Linked DNA regions of Homo sapiens: region 2 is linked to region 1. Evidence: fine-mapped expression QTL. Tissue or cell type: whole blood. Region 1 holds a variant in brackets; the other region holds the start of a gene. All regions are shown on one strand. Distances are between the middles of the regions.

Region 1 (11,074 bases):
AGTGAGACTCCGTCTCAAAAAAAACTGTAGGGAGCCTTCCTTCACCCAACTCATAGGTTCCTCCTCTTGGAACATCATGTTTTGGGTCATGCGTGTGTGTGTAATCTGTGGTTTCTTTACAGACATCTGACCCAGATGTGATCCTCTGCAATTCTGTAGAGTTGATCCGTGAGCGATTGACTGTGTCTGAGGATGGACCAGGAGTCAGGCGCCAGGAAGAACAAAAACACGATGACTATGTGTATGACATTTACTACTTGGAGACGGCCACTCCAGGCTGGATTGAGAACATCCTCTCCGTGCAGCCCTACAGCCAAGAATGGGAGCTGGTAAGGGGGCCCATGAGCAGACGGGGCATGAGGCATCCTAAGCTCTTAATCTAATCAGAATGCTTTGCTTCCCTGGGCTCCACTCCCGAACAACATTGTCCTTAGTTCTTTTCCTCCTGAAAAGGAAGAAATTATTCTAAGTGCCTTTTAGGAACCTGACTTTATAGTACAGGGAATTTGGGGAAAGATCATCTTAGATTGATCATTTTTACATTAATGAATATTTTACAAGGTTTGCAACATCACCTTTATTGTTTATAGCTATCCATTCTTAGGGGGGAAATATGTATATGGGGCTTATGATAAGATAAAGACGATAAAATCAGAAATTCTTAACATGAGTGACAACAAAATCTATTTTTTAATTCGTACCTTAGAAGTAGAGAAACCTCGGATGAAGAAAGCTAACGTCCTGACATTATTCTTTTTTTTTTTTCTTTTTTGAGACAAGGTCTCACACTGTCACCCAGGCTGGAGTGCAGTGGTGCTATCTGAGCTCACTGCAGCCTCTATCTCCCAGGCTCAAGCAATCCTCCTATCTCAGCCTCCCAAGCAGCCAGCCAGGAGTACAGGCATGCACCATGATGCCCAATTTTTGTTGATTTTTTTGTAGAGGCAGGGTCTCACTATGTTGTCCAGGCTGGTCTTATGGTCTTGAACTCCTGGGCTCAAGTGATCCACCTTGGCCTCCCAAAGTGTTGGGATTACAGGTGTGAGCCACCACACCTAGCTGACACCATTATCTTTTTTTTTTTTTTTTTTGAGATGGAGTCTCGCTCTGTCACCCAGGCTGGAGTGCAATGGTGCAATCTTGGCTCATTGCAACCTCCGCCTCCTGGGTTCAAGCGATTCTCCTGCCTCAGCCTCCCAAGTAGCTGGGACTACAGGTGCATGCCACCATGCCTGGCTAATTTTTGTATTTTTAGTAGAGACAAGGTTTTACCATGTTGCCCAGGCTGGTCTCAAACTTCTGACCTCAAGTGATCCACCCACCTCGGCCTCCCAAAGTGCTGGGATTACAGGCGTGAGCCACCGCGCCCAGCCTATTCTCAAATTCTAAAATGCTTAACAAGAAAACTTAAGGTGGCACCTAATGGTCATGCTCAGACTATAATCAAGAAGCACTGCATCCTGCACCTGCATTAGGACAGATTTGCAGTCAGGTACCCACCTTGGACCACTGCATGGCCCTTCCTCCTGCCTTTCCGCACCTCTTACGCTTGGGTTTTGGTTTTGACCTTTGGAATTTGAAGGAATCGCTCAGAGCCATCACTCCTCTTTTCCCTGTGTTCCCTTCTCATGGGGTCCAGCATGTCCTATCATTGTGGAGCTGGGCTCTGAGTGGAAGGGGGCTATTATCTCCCTCTCATAGCCTCTTGTGCAATGGAGTCAAACTACTAGTCTGCAGTTTTTTCACAGGGCACTTTTACATGATATCTCTTCAAGCTGGTATGCTAACAACTTCCCCCAGAGCATAACCTTAGAGGTTTTGACTTGGACTCATGTTTGTGTTGAGATGTGTAGGTGAATGATGATCAAGAACCAGAGGACATTTACGACGATGAAGATGACGAGAACAGTGAGAATAACTGGCGCAATGAGTACCCAGAGGAGGAGAGCAGTGATGGAGATGAGGATTCCAGAGGTGGGTGGCAGCCCCAGACCGGGAGGGACTGGTAGGATCTGAGACTGAGGTGCAGGCATAGTTGACAGGTGCATCTTAATTGCCTTTCCTTCTCTGTCATTGAGCGCCAGCAGCCCAGCCGCAACTGAGCCATGCTGTAGGAGACCCAAAGACCAGTGTTTCCCAGGGGCCTCCTGGGGGTGTAATAATCCATCAGGCCTGGATTCAAATCTGTAGTTGTCATTACTTTGCTGTGGCTCTTGGGCAGTTACTTCACCTCACTGAGCCTCATTTTCTCTCCAAATGAGATGGTTCTGCATGAATTTTAGTGGTTGAGATTATGTAAAATATGTAGCTCATTGTCTCTTCCCCTGCCCCAGTCAAGAAACCAATGAAGAGAGAGGTTTGCCAGTAGGAATAAGCCCAGAGTTTTCACAAATCAGTTATCTAACTTCTCAAAAAACTGCTGCATGTACAACTGTTTTGAGAAAGATGCAACACAGACATAATACCTGGGGGAAGAAGAAAGATGCTCTGACAACATAATTCCCGTAGTAACTATATTAAAGAAGAGAGAAGAAGGCCCAACAAAAAGAATTTATTGGTGTCTGATAACAGAGAAATGAATCAAACAATTGCATATTCTTTTGGGGAGGTTTGTCAATAACACGTTAAAAGGAGAAAGGTACAAAAATATTTACAATATGACTACAACTCTTACAACAACAAAAAATCCTATACGGAGGGGAGAAGTGACAAAATACTCCACGGAGGGGAGAAGTGACAAAATACTCCAGTGTGAAGGAACTTGGTTTAGATGATAGGAAAGTGATTCCTTCTTTAAAAAAAAAAGAATTCTATATTCTTTTTTATTTATTGAGCAAGGATTTTGCATTACAATCGGGAACAAAAACAGACCTTTCTGAGAAGAGAAGGGGCTCCTGCAGTAGCCTAGGAAAATCACATTTAGAATCCACTCCCGGGATGTCATTCTAGGCTCTGCTGACTACAACAGCCTGAGTGAGGAGGAAAGAGGCAGCAGCAGACAGCGGATGTGGAGCAAGTACCCTCTGGATGTGCAGAAGGAGTTCGGCTATGACAGCCCCCACGACCTGGATTCAGACTGATGGTCTTGTGATGTCCATGAGGTTCTGCCACATGCCCTTGAGGGCTCTGAGTCCAGAGTTAACTGCCCTGCTGACATCCTGTTAGGTTTCCTAGCTTAACATGTGGAAGGAAAAGCATATCAAGCATATCGGGCGGCACCATCCCACCACAGTGAAAACTTATGTTAGGGGAGTGAGTCTTTTCCACTTACAGTAGGACCCCTTTGCCTCAATCAAAAGTGACCCTACAGTTTGAAAGAAAAAAAAACGTTGAAAAAAGGAAGGTTTCTTTAGCTTTAGCTTCTTGGCCCAGGAATTTTTCCTGGCATTCAGGTTCTGTGCTGAAACCACAAGGGAGGGGGAGGTTCCCATTTCATTAGCAGTAAGCTTCTGCTGTGCCATACCACCAGGCTGCCTGCCTCTAGGAAAACCCTGTTCCTTTTGATAGAATCTAAAAGGGGTACCAGTGGGTCCCTTGTAGCAATACAGACTGGATAGTAATGGCCATTAGGGCAGAAAGTAGTCTGAGCAGTGGGAGATTTTAGTTAACAGCTATTTCTGCTTCCAAACTCTGATAACGGTTGTGAAATTACTGACTGACTTCCTTTGGCAGTGGGGCCAAGAAACAATATATATGAATGTGATACATGTGTTTAGTAAAATCTAGCTTTGAACATGGAAGAAAGTAATTCTTTGAAAACCTTTTAAATCTGAATATCTAAAACAGGGAGCGGTAGTGAAATAGAAGGTTCAGCATTGATTATAAATACCAAGGACTTAAGGCAAGGGAGGAAAAACAAAGTACCTTCTGAACTTAGCTTTCCACTGAGTAATGTTTACTCTTCACAGCACCCACCACAAAAACAAACTACTATCAACAGGATCAATTTTATTAACAACTTGTATCTCTTCTAAGCAGACTCTGTCCGTATGCCTTTCCAAACCATAGCTGCCTTAACTGACTGCCTTGGTGTTTATTCTAGCGTAACATTGTCCAGTAGAACTATCTGCAGTGATGATATGTTCTGTGTCTGCACTGTGTAGTAGTAGACACGGGTGGCTGCTGAGCACTTGAAATGTGATTAGCGCAACTGAGAAACTGAGCTTTTAATTTTATTTCATTTTAATGTAATTAGCTACACGTGGCTAGTAGCTGTTGCAGCGGACACCACAGGTCTAAGGAAACAACACAGAACATTCAGCTAGGGGTGTACCCTCATAGCCTGTGAGTGTCTCTTACTCACTGTCATGGGGGAAGGTGAGTTACACAGGGAGGTACCTTCTTGCCGCCTCTTTTAGGATTTCCTAAGTATCTCTCCTTCATCCTACCTGCCATCATTCTTTGACTTTATGTCCATTTTCTAAACCTTTGCCTACACTTGCTCTTATCTACATGGAGTTGTTCAACCTGCCGAAGTGATTAAATTCTGTGTACACAGGCCGTATATATTGCAGCTAATTAAAACAACAAACATCCTAGGCATGCACAAAGGTATAATTCACCGTTATAACAGGCAGCAACTTGTATGTCTAATATTAGACATCTTGCTTTCTGTCTGTAGGCATAGAAACAAAGGATTGAAAGCCATTCTCATACAGCAACCGGGTGAAAAAAACAAAACACTGTGCTGTTACAATGTGCTCCCTGCTATTTATACTCATTAAGTTTCCCCAATATTAAAGGGCTGACAACTTAATAAACTGTACTCACTGCAAAAGGGATAATAAGCACACCAGGAAAAGGATTTAAGGAGACAGACAACAAAGAGCTGGCAGAAATTAATTCCACCATGAAGCTTGAGTGCTGTAGGGATCCTCTGGCTTCGCTCCCAAAGAGAGGATCCTGGGAGAAGTCTGTATCCAGCACAGAGGGGAAAAATGCTGTCACCATCCAAAAATGAAAGGAGGATGACATGGCTCACTAAGCAAGTACTAGGGCACCTGGCATGTGAGGTCCTTGCTTTCCCTAGAAGCCACTGGTGGGGGGCAGCAAATTCCTGGGATTAGCTGGTTATCTGGTGGAGAAAGCTAAAGCTGGGGTCAGGGATCTTTAAAAGGCAAGCACATTTTGCTTAAAGGATTAGCTCCAGAGGAGCCCTGGGATGGGTGCCAGCTTAGCTCAGACAGAAGTCATGTTCTTAGCGTTCAGGCAAGTCAGCCTTTGCATAAGACACCCTGTCGTCGGGCAGGAATTTGCCGTTACAAATCCCAAACCCATGACAGTAGGAATGTCACCCCATGCTTCACATATGCATTATGCTCTGAACCCAGGGCAACTATGACCATGCTTCCTTCAATCTTTATTGAGCAAATATATGGCCAAGGTTATTCCCTTATCTGTGACTGGGTGGAGAAGAATGGTCAGGAAGGGAGACTGCCTCACTGTTGACCAATTCCAAAACCTAAGGATAAGCCCATGGGGTATGTCAAGCTAGCAGGTTCTTCTCGGCC[C/T]AGGATGACAGTGTCTGGGGGCATCACAAAACAGTTGTACAATCCAATGCAGCCGTCCTGCTCATACAGTAAGATCCATTAGGCCAGAGCAGGCCTAACTTGGGTGGAGAGCCCAGCCTGAGCACCAGAATTAGTTGCTTCCACTTGTGCAGCCTGCTGAAGAGCCGGACTCAGGTTGAAGCAGCTTTCCTCCCAGTCTTCACTGATCTCCACAGGGAGAAAACAGAAGTCCCCACAAGTACCAAGCTCTTCCTGAGACTGCAGCCACCACACCTCGGGGAAGGGGAGGCTGGCAGGAGAGGAGTACACTGTCCCGGTGACCCACACCAAGGTGGCTCCAAGTGTAAACAAAGCCTGGTGCCAGGGACAGAAGAGGATGCAGCCTGATGTGAGGTTTTCAGAAAAGTGAAATGACCTAGCACCAGGTTGGGATTGCTTGGGTCTGCACAGCAGTCCCTCACACTGCCCTTACAGAGAGGAACAGGTTATTTGATGACTTGGGCCCATGAGATGTTCTCCAAGCCATTGACAGCTGAGAGAATTCAGGTGATCCACCTGAATATCAGAAGTTTCAGCCCTCTTAGAGTTCGTAACAGAAACCCAGAGATTTACTGTCAGCTAGAACAAAGATGTAAGGTCTCAAGTAAAATAAAGGATTGTCCTTCAAAACAGCAATATTAACAGACTTCTGACTCAGGAATTTGTTCATCTGTCCTTGCTGGACCTGAGCCAAGTGCTTGTAACGTGATCTATGATCTATCTGTATGCTAAAGTGTAACAGGTACGTGAGTAAAAAAATCTTTAAGGTTCATTGTTGCAGGTAAGACTCAATAGAAATTGTGCTAAACAGCATAAAACCTGTGGTCAGAGTCTGACCCAATACCACAGACATTTCTGAGCCCAAAGGGACTCAGTTTTGGGTACTTTGATTTTTAAATACAATCAGCCTATTGCATCCTGTAGATGAAGAGACACGCATGCTTCGTTAGAACTGGTGTTCTGGACTAAATATCAATAAATAAGGGAATATAACTCTCTCCCCAGGGAAGAATTTTGAGCCAGAGGAAGAAATGGTAGCATTTCAGGCCTTTAAAGTCAGGTGTTGTACCTGGTCAGAGAAAAACTTCCCATAAAGCAGCCCCTCTATAGGGACTCCTAGTTCAAATACCAAATTCAGAAGCCACCAGCCCTATCAACCTAGCATTCCCTCTTCCCCACTGCACTTTACCAAGTAAATATCTGTAAGAGCTGCATCTACCTATCAGGAGTAAAACTAAATGACCATTCCCCCCGTTCCCCAATCTTCCCCCCACCCTCTGAAGCCCCCACCTTGAGGTTGGCCCAGATCCTGAGTCTCCTATAGCTTACCAATAAGAGTGAGCACTGGCCCTGAGCCCCACTATATGATTGGGTCAAAAGGCTCCTTTAATTCAGGAGAGTTGGGCCCACAGAGTCTTGTTATCAGGATTTTGCTGGTTGGCCTGCCTTCCAGGCCTCAGAAAGCCACCTCTGACCTCTAGTCAGTTTTCCTCTCATCCTTTTTTTCTTCGGCTACATCAAGCTCAGTCAGGACACAAAAGCAAAGCTGCTGGGTGCCTCTGGTGATAGCAGCTAAATGAAAATAGAGCAAGCACAGGGTTTAGTAAACATCTAGCTACAGCCCTAACCTGAACAAGGCTGACTAGTAACATCTATGGCTCCCTCGCCACCTGCCCCTTAAGTACCCTATATCAGGCTTTGCCCCTGTCTCCCAACAAGCCTCATCATCCTCTGTCCCATGCCCAACCAGAGTCTGATGCACAACTCATCTTCCCAGGTGATTTGTGTTGTCAGGAGGTAATGTTTTAGCCCCAAAATAGGACACTAAAATTAGAACTAAAGTGATCATGTCAAAATCAAAAGGGAAGTCGTGGACAGCTGGGTCACATGGCCTCCAGCAAATTCTGAGTATGGGGAAGCTGTTAGCCACCCCCCACCTCTGCATGCGCATGCACACATAGCCGCCAGTGAGTAATGGGGCACAGAGAAGCTCACCCAGGACATTCCGAATAAACAATGGCCTCCGGGACTCTGGCAGGTAAACACCCATGAAGTAGAAAGGGACTCCAGAAAGGGCAATCCCGATGCCAATGAGGGAATTAATGGTGTCAGTGAAGAGGGGCACTATCACCAGAAACACGGAGCATATGCAGAACACGATGGGGAAAAACACGCTCAGCTGAAATAGAGGGGGTGAGAGATTAAGTAACGTGGGAAGAGGAAACAGCTCGTGGGCAAGAAGCCACCTTAGGGAGATGGCCCACCCCTCCTAGTCTGGCCAGAGCTGCTGACCTTGAGAGGCCGGGGCCGCTTGGGCTCCTTCCAGCGGAGGTAGAGCTGTCCAACAACAGACAGGCCCACGAAGAACCAGTAGCTGAAGCTGAAGTAGTTGATAAGCTGGAAAACATCCTCCACGATGAGGTAGATGAGTGCCATGGTGCACTGTGGGAAAGGGGTGGGGAGACAGGTGAGCATCGTCACCACCTGCGCCCCCAGGAGACTCCCCCACCCAGCAGTCAGTACTAGATCTGATGCCACTTCACCAGATTACCTCTGGCTCTTTTCATTGACCCCTTGGCATCAGATAGGTCCATTCCTTGATGTACCCTGAGGTACATTAACCCTCAGGGTAGCATCTTTCCCCCTTCTGTTGCAGCCCTTCCTCCACTCAATGCCTCCCCCTTGTTGCAAGCACTTTAGAAAAAGGCAGACGCTGAGGCCCTCCTCACTTCAGTGCAGCAACCTTAACATGGATTACACGGTGTCCTAGAGAGGGGTTAGACCTGGGTCCCGACTGCCTGGCATACAAATGGGGGAAACGCCTTCAGAACCATCTCACTGTCCTCAGGCCTGAGAAATGCTAACTAGCAATTGGATCCCTACCCATCTGGACTAAATAATGTCAATAAATAATGGAATCTAACTCTCTCCCCATGGAAGAATTTTGAGCCAGAGGGAGAAATTGTAGCATTTCAGGCCTCTGAAGTCAGGTGTTGGACCTGGAAACTAGCAAAATGGATCCATCCAGACATAAGACAGCATTAGCTTCTGGAACAAAAGAATCCTAGAAGGCAAGGATTAGGGCCTAGGGTCCTGGGACAAGGTCAAATGTGTTTAAACTTCAATAATCTTTTCATTACAAATTATCAACAAAGGATTTAAAACCAAATAGCTCATTCTGTGGAGATAAGGGAGAACCCTGTATTAAGAAGAGAAGGCTGGGCGTGGTGGCTTGTGCCTATAATCCCAGCACTTTGGGAGACTGAAGTGGCAGCTCACTGGAGCCCAGGAGCTCAAGACCAGCCTGGGCAACATAGTGAGACCTCATCTCTACAAAAAATAAATTAGCCAGGCCTGGTGGTGTGTGCCTATAGTCAGATAACCTCCTAAATTTATAAATTCAATGCTGGCCCTGTCAAAATATCAAGAGAATTTTTCTCTTACTTTGATGAAATGATAGAAAAGTTCATCAAGACAAATAAACGAATATGAGAATTGCTAGGAAAATTCCAAGGGCGGGGGGACTAAAGAAGTACCCTTGGTCCCTCTTTAGTTTTCAGATAGTCAGTATAAAGCTAAACTAAGGAGACTTGGTGCTGATGGGGAGGATTAGTTGAGATGGCACATTTAAGGGGCATACAATAATAATTGGCACATATTAAGGACCCTAAAAAAATTAGCTATTAATTTTCTGTGATAAAAGTTTGAAAACTGTGGGAAAATGGATTGTTGAGTGAGCGATATTGGTATAGCTGGCTGCCATTCGAGAAAAAATTAAGTGAATCCCCACCTTTCTCAATACTATGCTATAATATAAATTCCAGATTAATCCAAAATTAAACGTAATAAAACCATAAAAGAATTAAATGACAACAAAAAATGAACTGTTTTTCACATCTTAGAGTAAGGCCTTTCTCAGGGTCCCTCTTATTTAACAACTTAGCACAAATCAGAAGGAGCAATGCACAGATCCACCTGAGCCCCGTGGTCCCAGCAAAGCTTACATTGAACAGTAAAGCAGGGATAGGTGTAAAACGCTCAATGTGGATCATGGACAGAAGGTCCGGTAGGTGGCCCTCCCGGGAGCCCACGAAGAACAACCTAGAAGGATGAGAAATGTGTCAGCAGGATCCTTTACTCCTTTTACTCAGCCATACTCACTCCTCACTTGGACAAACTCAGCTCAGAGCCCCCGAGGAAAGCAGGATGCAGCCTCCCAGGAGCATCCCAGGTCCTTAGTGCATCACCAGTCCAACCTCCCTGCTCCCCCCTTCCCTACAGATTTTCCCTCCCTCTTCATCCCCGGGCACCTCACCACTACCCAGATGCCCCACCCACCATCACCCAGATACCCCCTCTTCTCTCAGCCACAGATACCTCACCAACATCCAACAGATGCCTCACCCTGCTGTCACCCACTAACAGACTCACCCAATCCATGCCAGATTCATAGCTAACATAATAGCTTTTAAAGGGCAGCCAGATTTCTGTTCATGCCCTCCATATATTTTCCCTGAGCTGATGTAAGGCAAGACTGAGGGTCAGAGAGACAACCCAGGCTTCCTTTCTACACCTAAAGAGCTCTACCGACTGGGAAAAAGACTGGCACAGCGTCCAGGCATGGTGGCTCATGCCTATAATCCCAGCACTTTCGGAAGCCGAGGCAGGTGGATCACCTGAGGTCGGGAGTTTGAGACCAGCCTGACCAACATGGATAAACCCTGTCTCTACTAATACAAAATAAGCCGGGCGCGGTAGCACATGCCTGTAATCCCAGCTACTCGGGAGGCTGAGGCAGGAGAATCACTTGAATCCAGGAGGCGGAGGTTGCAGTGAGCCGAGATCGCACCATTGCACTCCAGCCTGGGCAACAAGAGTAAAACTCCATCTCAAAAACAAACAAAAAAAGACTGGCACAGAAATGAACTGTCCCCAGCATGGTCAGCATCACCTTGGAGTACACGACACTCACTCGCTAGGCTTGAGGCTTGTGCCAAAATGCTTTGCAAGAGGAGAGATGCAAAGAAGAGTTTCCAGAAGCAAGTCGGTAGGTGGAAAAAACGAGCATGTGCATAGGCAAAATGTGTGGAGGTATGAAAGAGCGTGGCCTCTTTGGAGGTTGATGTAGAATGCCTAGAGCCCCAGGACAAGCTGTGTGAGAAGAGGGTGCTGGGAAGAACCTGCATACAAGGCCACACTGTGGAGTCTGAACAAACACAGTCAGCTGTGGCTTTGAGGTAAGGGCCTGACGGGATTTGACACCAGACTGGAGAGCAAACTAGAGCAGGGGGAGGCTAGGGTGTCAGGGAAAGGCTAGAAAAGAAGTCCATCTATCACAACTAGGCTGAGCAGAGGGAAGGTGACACTACTTTTTTTATTTTTGAGATGGAGTCTCGCTCTGTAGCCCAGGCTGGAGTTCAATGGCGCGATCTCGGCTCACTGCAACCTCCGCCTCCTGGGTTCAGGCAATTCTCCTGCCTCACCCTCCCGAGCGGCTGGGACTACAAGCACGTGCCACCATGCCC
Region 2 (11,074 bases), 34 kb after region 1:
CAAGAGTTCGAGACTAGCCTGGGCAACATAGCAAGACCCCATCTCTACAAAAAAAAATTAAAAAGTAGCCAGGCATGATGGCACACGCCTATAGCCCCAGCTATTTACTCAGAAAGCTAAGAGGTAAGTTTGAGTTCAGGAGTTGGGAGGCTGCAGTGAACCATGATGGCACTACGGGCACTCCAGCCTTGGTGACAGAGTGAGATGACCGAGTGAGACCTTTTTTCTTTCTTTTTTTTTTTTTTGAGACAGAGTCTTGCTTTGTCACGCAGGCTGCAGTGCAGTGGTACAATCTTGGCTCACTGTAACCTCCACCTCCTGGGTTCGAGGGATTCTCCTGCCTCAGCCTCCCAAGTAGCTGGGACTACAGGTGTGCACTACCATGCCTGGCTAATAAACTGAGGGTATGGATGGAGGATAACCACTGAGAAAAAGCCTCCCTCCTGCAAACCAACCGTAAGCTGGCAAGGAAACATGAGAAGAATTTGAAGTCATTGGTGCACCTAACGTAACCATAGCAACAATAACACCCAAACACTACTGTCTCCTGACTAGGAGTTCAAACTCCCATACAAACAGTCTAGCAAAGAAGAGCTGTACCCAGTTCCCAAAATAAATACTATATACCTCAGTCTCTACTGTTCCACACACGGTATCTGGCAATCAGTAACAAGTTACAAGCAACATAAAAAAAGCAAGAAAAACAACCCACTATCAAGAGGAAAAGTAATCAATAGGACCATATTGAGAGATGACCCAGATAATGGAAACATCAAACAAGGAATTTAAAATAATTGTGTTTGATACATTTAAGGTTCTACTGAAAAAGTTGAACAGCATGCAGAAACAAATGTGGAACTTTAGCAGTGAGATGAAAACCAAAAGGGTCAAAATGGAGAAAGTGAAAAAATAGAACAGAACATCAACCTGTGGGGCAATATCAAATAGCCTAGGTAAATATTTTTTAATACGTATTTTTGCTCTTTTTTTTTTTAGACGGAGTTTCGCTCGTTGCCCACGCTGGAGTGCAATGACGCGATCTTGGCTCACTGCAACCTCCGCCTCCTGGGTTCAAGCTATTCTCCTGCCTCAGCTTTCCGAGTAGCTGGGATTACAGGCATGCGCCACCACACCCAGCTAATTTTTTGTATTTAGTAGAGACGGGGTTTCACCATATTGGTCAGGCTGGTCTCGGACTCCTGGGACCTCAGGTGATCCGCCTGCCTCGGCTTCCCAAAGTGCTGGGATTACAGGCGTGAGCCACCACACCCAGCCAACAAAAAAATTTTTAAAAATTTTAAATTCCTGCAGTCTCCTGCAGCAGGTAATAAAGGAATTTAACAGACTACCAAAATTTCCCCATGAAAATTTAACCACGAAACTGCCACAAGCAATTTTTGGAATAAATGAATTTATCACAATTCAATTACATCAGAAAACGGGATGAAAGGGGGGAAAAGCTCGATTACAAAGGAAGTTTTACAAAGTGGATTTGAAACCAAAATTTTTGTAATGACTAAAGGAAAAAATGCTATTGAGAATGTTTGGAAAAACTCAAAACCATTTTTACTGTGTACTCTCACACCACAATAATCAACACAGAAGAGTTCTGTGACCAAATGCCGGAGGGGGAGGGTTCCCCACTAACAAGCAATCATTTCTCCCCAGGGACACCAGCTGAGTGTCCTCCAGTTCAATCCCAACACTATCTACCTGGAGACAGCATCAGATCCCACAGCAGAAGGGCTCAGTTCCACAAGACTGCCCCTCCCCAACAGGATACCTGGCACAAATCCAAGCCTCCTGAACTTCTGACCGAACTGTTTCAAGTTGGGGCTCCCAAGACTCCTCTTTCAGTTCAATTAATTTGCTAGAGCGGCTCACAGAACTCAGAGAAACACTTACTTACCTTTACTTGTATATTATAAAGGCTATTACAAAGGATACAGATGAAGAGGTTTGCAGAGCCACATATGGGGGAAGGGTCACAGACTTTCCTTGTCCTCCCAGGGAGAAGTACCATCCAGGAACCTCCACATGTCCAGCTATCCGGAAGCTCCCCAAACCCCCAGCCTCTTGGGTTTTTATAGAGGCTTCATTACATAGGCATGAGTGATTAAGCCACTGGCCATTAGTGATCAACTTAACCTCACCCTCCTCCTTTCTCCCCTCCCCGGAGGTTGGGGGTAGGGCTCAAAGTCCCAACCCTCTAATCCTGACTTGGTCTTTCCAGTGACCAGCCCCCATCCTGAAGCTTTCTAGGGGCTGCCAGCCACCAGCCATCAGCATACAAAAAGACATTACTTTGATCTTTCTAAGTATTTTAGGAGTTGTATGCTAGGAAACGGGCTGAAGACCAAAAAATATTTTGCTATATCACAGAGAAATACATCAAAATCTTTTTATTCCCCCCTCTGGTTGAATCAAAATCTTAACTATGGTGAAAACACAGAGGACTTTTTCTTATAAAACTCTCTGAGTTATGGCCAGGCGCGGTGTCTCACACCTGTAATCCCAGCATTTTGGGAGGCTGAGGCGGGTGGATCGCCTGAGGTCAGGAGTTCGGGACCAGCCTGGCCAACATAGTGAAACCCTATCTCTGCTAAAAATACAAAAAATTGTCCGGGCATGGTGGTGGGCACCTGTAATCCCAGTTACTCGGGAGGTTGAGGCATGAGAATCACTTGAACCCGGGAGGTGGAGGTTACAGTGAGCCAAGATCGCACCATTGCACTCCGCCAGGGCAATGAGAGCGAAACTCCTTCTCAAAAAAAAAAAAAAAAAAAAAAAAATCCACCACAATTGGGAGGCTGAGACGGGCAGATTGCCTGAGCTCAGGAGTTCGTGACCAGCCTGGCCAACATGGTAAAGCCCCGTCTCTACTAAAAATACAATAATTAGCTGGGCATGGTGGCGGGCGCCTGTAATCCCAGCTACTTGGGAGGCTGAGGCAGGAGAATCGCTTGAATCCAGGAGGCAGAGGTTGCAGTGAGCAGAGATTGCGCCACCACACCCCAGCCTGGGTGACAGAGTGAGACACTGTCTCCAAAAAAAAAGAAAAAACCCACCACAATTACTCTTTATAAAGAATTGTAATATAAATAAATGTATAATTTATTTTTATAATAAATTACAGTGTTATTTAATATGTAATACTAAAGAGTTGTTAATTATGTGTAAGCCATTCTGTTTACTAGTATTGTATTCACACTGTATACAAGTAAAAACTCTTTGTAAATCACACAAACAAAAGAAAAGACAGCGCAACAATATTCACCTGTCAAGAAATACGCGAACATCACACTTTCATAAGCCACCTCCTCATAAATGGGTCCAGTACTGAGAAGGAAATGAAGTCCCCTGCAGCAAGGCCTAATTCCACTTGTCTGCCTCGGCCACATAAACTCTGCAACAAAGAGTGGGAGGGAACTGATCAAAAAATGAACTCTTTTAACCTGAGAAAGCTGATTTAAATATATATATATATGTAATTATTTTTAATTAACCAAGAAAGCAGCAGAATGATATTTCCTTGTAAAATCTAAATTTTACATGCCCGGCAGGGGCAGTCCTAATTACTAGCAGGTTCCATGACACCCACAGGGTGGGTATAACTGAAGTAGCCAGCCCAAACCTGTCAGAGAACTGGCCTTGTCACATTAAATCATGTAAGTCTAGGCAGCTCTGGGGCCCCAGGTCCCGTGGGCACCGTTTACATAACTTTTTTTCTTTTTTTTTGGAGATGGAGTCTCGCTCTGTTGCCCAGGCTAGAGTGCAATGGCGCAATCTTGGCTCACTGCAACCTCCGCCTCCCGGGTTCAAGCCATTCTCCTGCCTCAGCCTCCCGAGTAGGTGGGACTACAGGTGCCCACCACCACACCTGGCTCAATTTTTGTATTTTTAGTAGAGACGGGATTTCACCATGTTAGCCAGGATGGTCTCGATCTCCTGACCCCGTGATCCGCCTGCCTCGGCCTCCCAAAGTGCTGGGATTACAGGACTGAGCCACCGCGCCCGGCCTGCATAACTTTTTTAGAAACTAATATACATCCAAGAAATTACAGCAGGAAGCACAAAGGTCAGGAAATTTCTTCTACTAAGAAGTTCCAGGGAGATGGGGATCATAAAACCGGTATATGCAATAAAAATACATCCACGGCCAAATAGGGAAGGAGGACAAGGAGAGGAAGAGAGGAGAAAATCAGGCTGGTGGTTTTCCACACACTTGCCAGGAAAATAAACTCCAGTGTAACGACTTGAATAACGATCTGAGATCAAAGTTGGGAAGCAAAAGCCGTCTGCGCAGCACACATGGGACCTGAGTAATGCAGGCAGCCTGGGCAGGTCCCCAAAAGGCCTCACCGCCACCAAAAAGAGGTGGAACTGATATAAGGAAGTACTCACAGCCTTTCAAGTCTGCTCCTCCCAGATCTGAAATCTGGGAGCAGTTCTGAGAGACAAGCCCCGGATGGCTGGGCACTGAACAGCCGCCCTGCGAGATGAGCTGCCCTGGCTTTTTCCCCTATCAAGGGCAGAGACTGAATTCTTTTTAACTGTGTCACCAAGCCCAGGGCATACAAGAGGTACTCAAAAACGTGTTCGCCGACACCCTGATTCCTATTTATACTGACCATTACACAACATGTTTGCTTAGAGCCCAGCAAAGAATTTTCAGAATGTTTCACGTCTATCTCCCCACATTCAGGAGAGATAGTCACACAAGATGACAGGCTATAGGGACGCTCAAAAGAGCCATAATCACCAGGGGCACGCGGGTTCCCCAGCGCCAGCAGCCCAACGCTCCAGGCTCCAGCACGCCACAAAACCTTGCGGCATTCTCTAAAGTAAAAGGACTGATTTTAAAATGATAATCGTCATTCTTGCGACAGCCCCAGGAAGCCTGGCTCCTGAGGTCCTGAGCCCGCGTCTTTCTTTGCCCCACCGCGGCCGCCACACAGCACAGGTTCTCCGTCCTGCAGTCGGAGGCGCAGTCACAGCCCCACTCAGGGTCACCGTCGCACAGTCTCACGCTCGCGGCGCGGCCCGCGCACTCAGCGTCCCGGTCACCCTCGCACCTGGGGTTTCCCTCTCCACACACACCCCCGGTCTCCCTCACACTCGCCGCGTCGCCAGCACACCCCAAGACTGGCTCCCTCGCGGTCACCATCAGCCTCCGGGGCTCGCACCCATACAGCGTTTCTCCCACACTCGGCCCTCACGCTCGAGGTCCCTCTCTCCTCGTGGCGCCCCCCCTCACCCGCAGCGCCTCTCGCGCGGCCCCGATCGGCCAGCCCCGCGCTGTTTCTGGGCCGCATCCCGCTCCCGACGGCGGCAGCGAAGACCCACAGGGTTCGGCTCCCACAGAACGCGGCCCAGCCCCGGCCCCGCTCCCGGCGCGCCCGCCCATGGCCCAGCCCGTTACCTCCCAGTGGCCCGGCGCCGCCAGGATGCTCGGTCGCGCCGCCGCCGCCGCGGCAGCTCAGGCCCCGCCCCGCCACGTCACCCGCCGCCGGATCGCGACAGCGCGCGCCGCGTCGGGACACAGTTCCGTGCGGGGCCAGCTGGCGGCGGCGCTTCCGGGCCCCCGTGGCCGCCACGGCCTGGCCGGTACGGGGTCCGCCGGCCCAGAACGTGAGCGTGGACGCCAGACAGCCCCCAGCTGCCTCGTCAGGGCTCGAGCAGCCCGTGAACTGGGCCCGGCCACGCTCGCCGCCCTGGAGTTAGATGGGGCCTCCGAGGGCGTCCACAGCGGACATTCCCGCGGGGAGCTCTCATCGGCCCCCGCACCCCGTTCCTATCTCGCACTTGACCTGGGCCCGACGCCCAGGGCGCCCCCTACAGCTCACACAGGGATCCAAACGGCCTCCGCCGCCGGGCCACTGCCACTCGCAGTCTAGGAACCCCAGGAAGACACACACTCTGGGGACTTGTCCAAACACACGCACAGCTCAGACTCGTAGCCCTTGAGGCCCCCGCACCCACAAAGAAACTGCAGGCTCCCTTTGCCAACCCCAGGCCTCCCTGGGGCTCTGTCCTCATCTTCCCAAGAGGGCTGCCACCCCTCTTGGGGGAGCTGCACCTCCTGCCCCCCCTCTTGGGGGAGCTGCACCTCCTGCCCCCTTCCCCTCCCTCTGTTTGCTCCTCCATCTTTCTCTCGAGTTCCTTTTCCTCTGGTGGCTCTGGGGCTCTCTGTCTAGAGCCTCCTGACCTCATGGGCGCCTGAGCCCTCCTCCGAAATTTCCTGTCCACACCTCAAGCACTGACTTTCTCCAGGGCCCTGGAATCTTTTCCCCCAGCCTTATGACCACAAGTACACGTCCTCTGGTTCCAGACCATACCCAAGACCCTGCTCCCTGCCACCCAGTGACAGGGACCCAGCCAGAGATGGGTAGCACCTCAGACCCTTCCTCCCCACTCCTCCCACGGCCTATACCTCGTTTTCTTCTCCCCAGCCACAACGGCTTCTCAATCCCTATCCTGCTCCCCTTACCCCATCTCCACAGAGTAGGGGATGCTCCTAGAATACAGATTGCGATGACTTTGTATCTCCCCTGCCTAAAACCCTTCCATTCTCCTCTCTGCAGGCCTGGGATGACAATACTTGAGGAATCCTCGCTGGTGCTGCCCTCCTGCCCTCTGCTTGGAACCCCTCCCCTAAGTGTCAGTGAGTGGACGTATATATTTGGATCAATCGAGTTGCACCCTTTGCCTCCCAGATCAGTTCCTCCGGCCTCCCTGGCTGAGCAGAAGGACAGCTCTGGACACTTGTGTCAGCACCCAGCCCACGTGTCCCTGCCACAGCTTCATATAAGGTATGCCGGCTCAGCCGGGCCTGGTGGCTCACGCCTGTAATCCTACAACTTTGGGAGGCTGAGGCAGGCAGATCACCTTGAGGTCAGGAGTTCGAGACCAGCCTGACCAACATGGAGAAACCCCGTCTCTACTAAAAATACAAAATTAGCCGAGTGTGGTGGCACATGCCTGTAATCGCAGCTACTCAGGAGGCTGAGGCAGGAGAATCGCTTTAACCCAGGAGGCAGAGGTTGCAGTAAGCCGAGATCGCGCCATTGCACTCCAGCCTGGGCAATAAGAGCGAAAGTCTATCTCAAAAAAAAAAAAAAAAAAACACCATATGCCAGCTCCGTCTGGCTTTGCAGTCTCATACCCAGTTACGTAGCCCATCAGCTGAAAGCCCAATGTACACCACACCCTGAATCAGATGTTCTCCAACACCATCAGTGTTCCTCAGGACCACCCTGCAGGATACATTTATTTGTAACCATTCTTTTCTTTTGCTTTTAGAGATCTTGCTGTTGCCCAGGCTGGAGTGCAATGGCTATTCACAGGTGTGATCATAGCTCACTGCAGCCTCGAACTCCTGGTTTCAAGCGATCTTCCTGCCTCAGCTTCCTACTTGGGACTACAGATTTATTTCATCTTTTTTTTTTTTTTTGAGATGTATCTCGCTCTGTCTTGCTCAGGCTGGAGTGCAGTGGTGCCATCTTGGCTCACTGCAGCCTCCGCCTCCCAGGTTCCAGTGATTCTCCTGTCTCGGCCTCCAGAGTAGCTAGGACCACAAGGCATGTGCCACCACACCTGACTAATTTTGTATTTTTAGTAGATATGGGGTTTCACCATGTTGGCCAGGCTGGTCTTGAACTCCTGACCTCATGTGATCCACCCTCCTTGGCCTCCCAAAGTGCTGGGCTCACAGGCGTGAACCATGGCGCCCGGCCTATTTCACCTTTAGAGATAAAGTCTTGCCCAGGCTGGTCTCAAACTCCTGGGCTCAAGCGATCCTCCCACCTTAGCCTCCTGAGTAGGTGGAACTATAAGCGTGAGCCAATGCACCCAGATGTCCCCATTCTTTGGATGAGGAAACTGAGGGTCAGGAGGCTCCCCAGACAACTTGGCTGGAGCTAGTAGAGCTGAGATTTGAACCCTAGTATGCTGATCCTTAAGCCTCCTCTGATTCCATGCCCTTTCTCTCTGCAGCTATGAAACTGAGGGTGATGGTGAAGCTAAAATGGGTCAGGGATGAGTGGGGTGCCATGAGTAGGGGGGTGTCAGGGCCAAGCAGGGAGTCAGGTTGGGCAGGGCCTGGGGTGAAGCTCCCTTTCATGTTGTCATCCTTTTACTGAGGCCAGAGCTGCAGCTGGACCCCAGTATTTTTACCACAGGCATTTTTACCCCCACTCTGGGTCACCTCGTCCTTCCAGGTTTGGCTAACAGGTGGTTCAGTGAGAGGGTTCAGGGCGCCCTCTTGTGGCCCCTGGTGTATCAAAGTCTGGCGCCCCAGCTTGTGGGGCTGAGTTAAGACAGAACTGGGTACCGGCTGGGCTCTGGACTACAAAATTCAGGCTGGGACCCTATCCCCTATCCATGTTTCCTTGGCTCTGTCTCTGTTTCTGTCTTTGTCCATACCAGTCTCAGCCTAGTAGTCTCTTTTCCTCCCTTGATCTCTCTCATCTGTACCTCCCCAGGGGTACAGATGGCAGGCTGATGAGCTGAAGATGCAAAGAAGGGTGGCATCCTAAAAAGAACTCTAGGTTCAAAGGATGCTGACACTTGCAAGCTGAGGGAGGACAGAGGCTGGGAAGGAGGGTGTAGCCAGGGTGACCTGCAGGACTGTCCTTGCTCCCAGCTCCTGGGTGGCATGTGGGGCCTGCTGACCAGGCAGGAGCAGGGGGAGGACAGGACCCCATTTCCACAGGAATGTTTCAGGTTCTGGTTCTTAGTCCCAGGAAGGGAACTGGATTCCAGGAGAGAGGACAGGAGGATGAGGTCCACAGAAGGGCACAGGAACCATGCTTTGATGCTGAGACAACCTGTCAAGGCTCCTGTAAAGGCCCAGCCCCTAATTTCCTGCCTCTGTAGCCACCTTGTACCTCCACCACCTCCCTCCCCTCATGCTCAGAGCAGAATGTAGGCCAGGGCACCTTACAGCATCCAGAGTACTTTTATTGCCAGAATCCAGATACAGCCTGCTCAGAGCCCCATGTGGGGCCACTCAGGAACAAGGGGAGACAGATGCCAGGCATGTATGCAACAGAGAAAATCCAGCTGCACAGAAACCCTGTGGGAGAGCAGCTCAGTCCAGCGTGAAGGCGTCTTTGGGAACCCCACCTAGAGGCTGTACCCTTTTCTCGGCCTGTGGCCAGTCACCCACTTAGAGCCTACTGCCATGAAGGCAGCCCTGACTCTCCATGCCTGCTGCCACAGGGAGATCCATGGAGCACCCTGGGGCAGACAGAAAGCCCCTAGGGGGGCCTCAGGGGACCCCTGGCTCTCTCAGGGTCCCATTCAAGTTTCTGGGCTAGTCCCAGCACTAAGCTGGGTGCTGGCCAGGGTGGATAGGAGCCCCATCCTCAGCCCTGTGCTGACCCACTTGGTACTAGTGAGACCCTAGGGCAGGGTGGCAGTGTGATGGTGGGGTTAGCAAGAGGTGCAGCTCAGGGAAGCTGCGAGCAGCCTTGGCTGCTTCCTTGGATTCCCTTTCTCCATAGGTTCCCAGAAGGCCATGGCTCCAACCCCTGCTCTCATCCTTGGAACCACAGTCCCAGGGTGAAGGGAGGCAGCTTCAGTCCTGGGGCCAATAGCACATCCGAGGAAATCAGGGCCCCTGGAACACAGCCTGCGGGACTGGGGGCACATCTGCTGCCCAATCCAGAGCTTGAATGCTCCTGGTGGTAAGGGAGGTAGGAGTGGAGTGAGATGTCCCAGGGCCTGGGAACCACGAAGAACGCAACAAACTGCCCCTGCCTGCAGGAGCTACTAGGCTCGCCCAGGAAGCCAGTCAGGCTGGCCACCAGCTAAGCCACAGGGAAGCCAGCAGCTCTAGCTACCCATGACCAGTGGCAGGCCTATCTGTGGCTGGTGTGTGGGAAGGGTCACCCGAGGGGCCAGGAGCCGATCCCTGGGACCTCTGGGTACAGGACCACAGCCCAGTAACATCCCTCATAGGAAGGCTGCGGGGCCAGGGCCCAGTAGGCAAGTATGAAAAGCCCACAGGAATAGGGGGGACACATGGCCCCAGGCAGGGACTGGGACCAGGGCCCAGCCAGTCCACCCTGTGGAGCCAGTCCTAAGGTCACAGCAGTTCCACCATCAGCAGCATTCTTGCCATCCAGTGTCCCTTGAGTCTAGACTCTCATTTCTTCCTTCTTCACTGCCACAGAGAAAGGATAACAAACAGCACTTCCCCATGGCAGATGCTTCACAGTCCAAGACTCGGGGCCTTGAATGGTGAGTCACAAACTTTGCAAAACGCGTGGGCCATGACAGCCCCAGAGGCCAACAGCAGGTCCACGGCCGAGCCACAGGAGTCCTGTGGCACAGGAGTCAGGGCCCAAGGAGCACACGTTTCAGATAGGCCAGGGTGGTGGCGTTGGCCAGCATCTCGATGTGCTCGCTGCCTGGCAGCTCCTGCAGCAACACTTGGTGCTCCTGGCGGCTCTGCCAGGCCTGGCACTGCAGGGCACTCTTCAAGTTCACAGTACCATCGCCGTCACCAAAGCAGATTTTAGGGTCACGGTCAGGGAAGCTCTCATAGTAGAAGGAGTCTGGTGTGGGGACGCCAGTACCATAGAGGCAGTGCAGCTGCACGCCAGGTGGCATCGTGGCTTCCACCAGCCCTTCTGTGTCCTGCCGCATGAGCCAGCCATCTTCAAAGCCGATGTCCTGGAAGAACTTGCGGTAGTCCCGCAGTGTGTAGTTGATTGTGGGTGTCTGCACGAACACCTTCTCAGGTGACCATGTGTAGTTGTAGGGCAGCAGCCAGCTGGTGGAGACAGCTGACCGCTGCTGCTCCCGGATCTTCAGGGGCCCGATGACTGGGATCCGGTTGTTGTCTCCTGCAGGGAGAAGGCTCTGGTCAGTCTGTGCTTAGGAATGCCAGCTGGTTGGGCAGCATGTTCACCACCAGGCCCCTGCCAGACCCCAGCCAGGGGCCCAGTCCACAGTCCCGCATCTCTACCCGGTTATCATCATTGTAATCACTGTGACTCCCATCCCTGCCTTGGCTCTTTTTTTTTCTTTTTGAGACAGGGTCTCACTCTGTTGCCCAGGCTGGAGT

The links. PIP is the estimated chance that this variant, and not a neighbour inherited with it, causes the effect.
Region 2: it holds the start of SLC7A6, and the variant in region 1 is fine-mapped to the expression of SLC7A6 in whole blood (TOPMed, PIP above 0.99).

Annotation. Positions count from the first base shown.
Region 1 is chr16:68,293,281-68,304,354 of GRCh38, reverse strand. SLC7A6 (solute carrier family 7 member 6) reads right to left here. Exons shown (of 11, transcript NM_003983.6): 8 at 9,554-9,650; 9 at 7,842-7,991; 10 at 7,545-7,728; 11 at 2,536-7,121. The coding sequence ends at 7,027. It overlaps SLC7A6OS (solute carrier family 7 member 6 opposite strand), which reads left to right. Exons shown (of 5, transcript NM_032178.3): 3 at 123-329; 4 at 1,854-1,974; 5 at 2,950-6,321. The coding sequence ends at 3,080. Among named protein-coding and RNA genes, the nearest start is that of SLC7A6OS, 12 kb to the left of the region's middle. RefSeq lists a silencer at 6,075-6,369. The variant C/T (reference allele first, on the strand shown) is at 5,511.
Region 2 is chr16:68,258,925-68,269,998 of GRCh38, reverse strand. It overlaps SLC7A6 (solute carrier family 7 member 6), which reads right to left and starts at 5,473. Exons shown (of 11, transcript NM_003983.6): 1 at 5,423-5,473; 2 at 3,278-3,406. PLA2G15 (phospholipase A2 group XV) reads right to left here. Exons shown (of 6, transcript NM_012320.4): 6 at 8,941-10,853. The coding sequence ends at 10,342. It overlaps LOC124903704 (a long non-coding RNA gene), which reads left to right and starts at 5,542. Exons shown (of 3, transcript XR_007065096.1): 1 at 5,542-5,631; 2 at 6,585-6,812; 3 at 7,303-7,338. RefSeq lists an enhancer at 3,736-4,935 and a silencer at 5,308-5,587.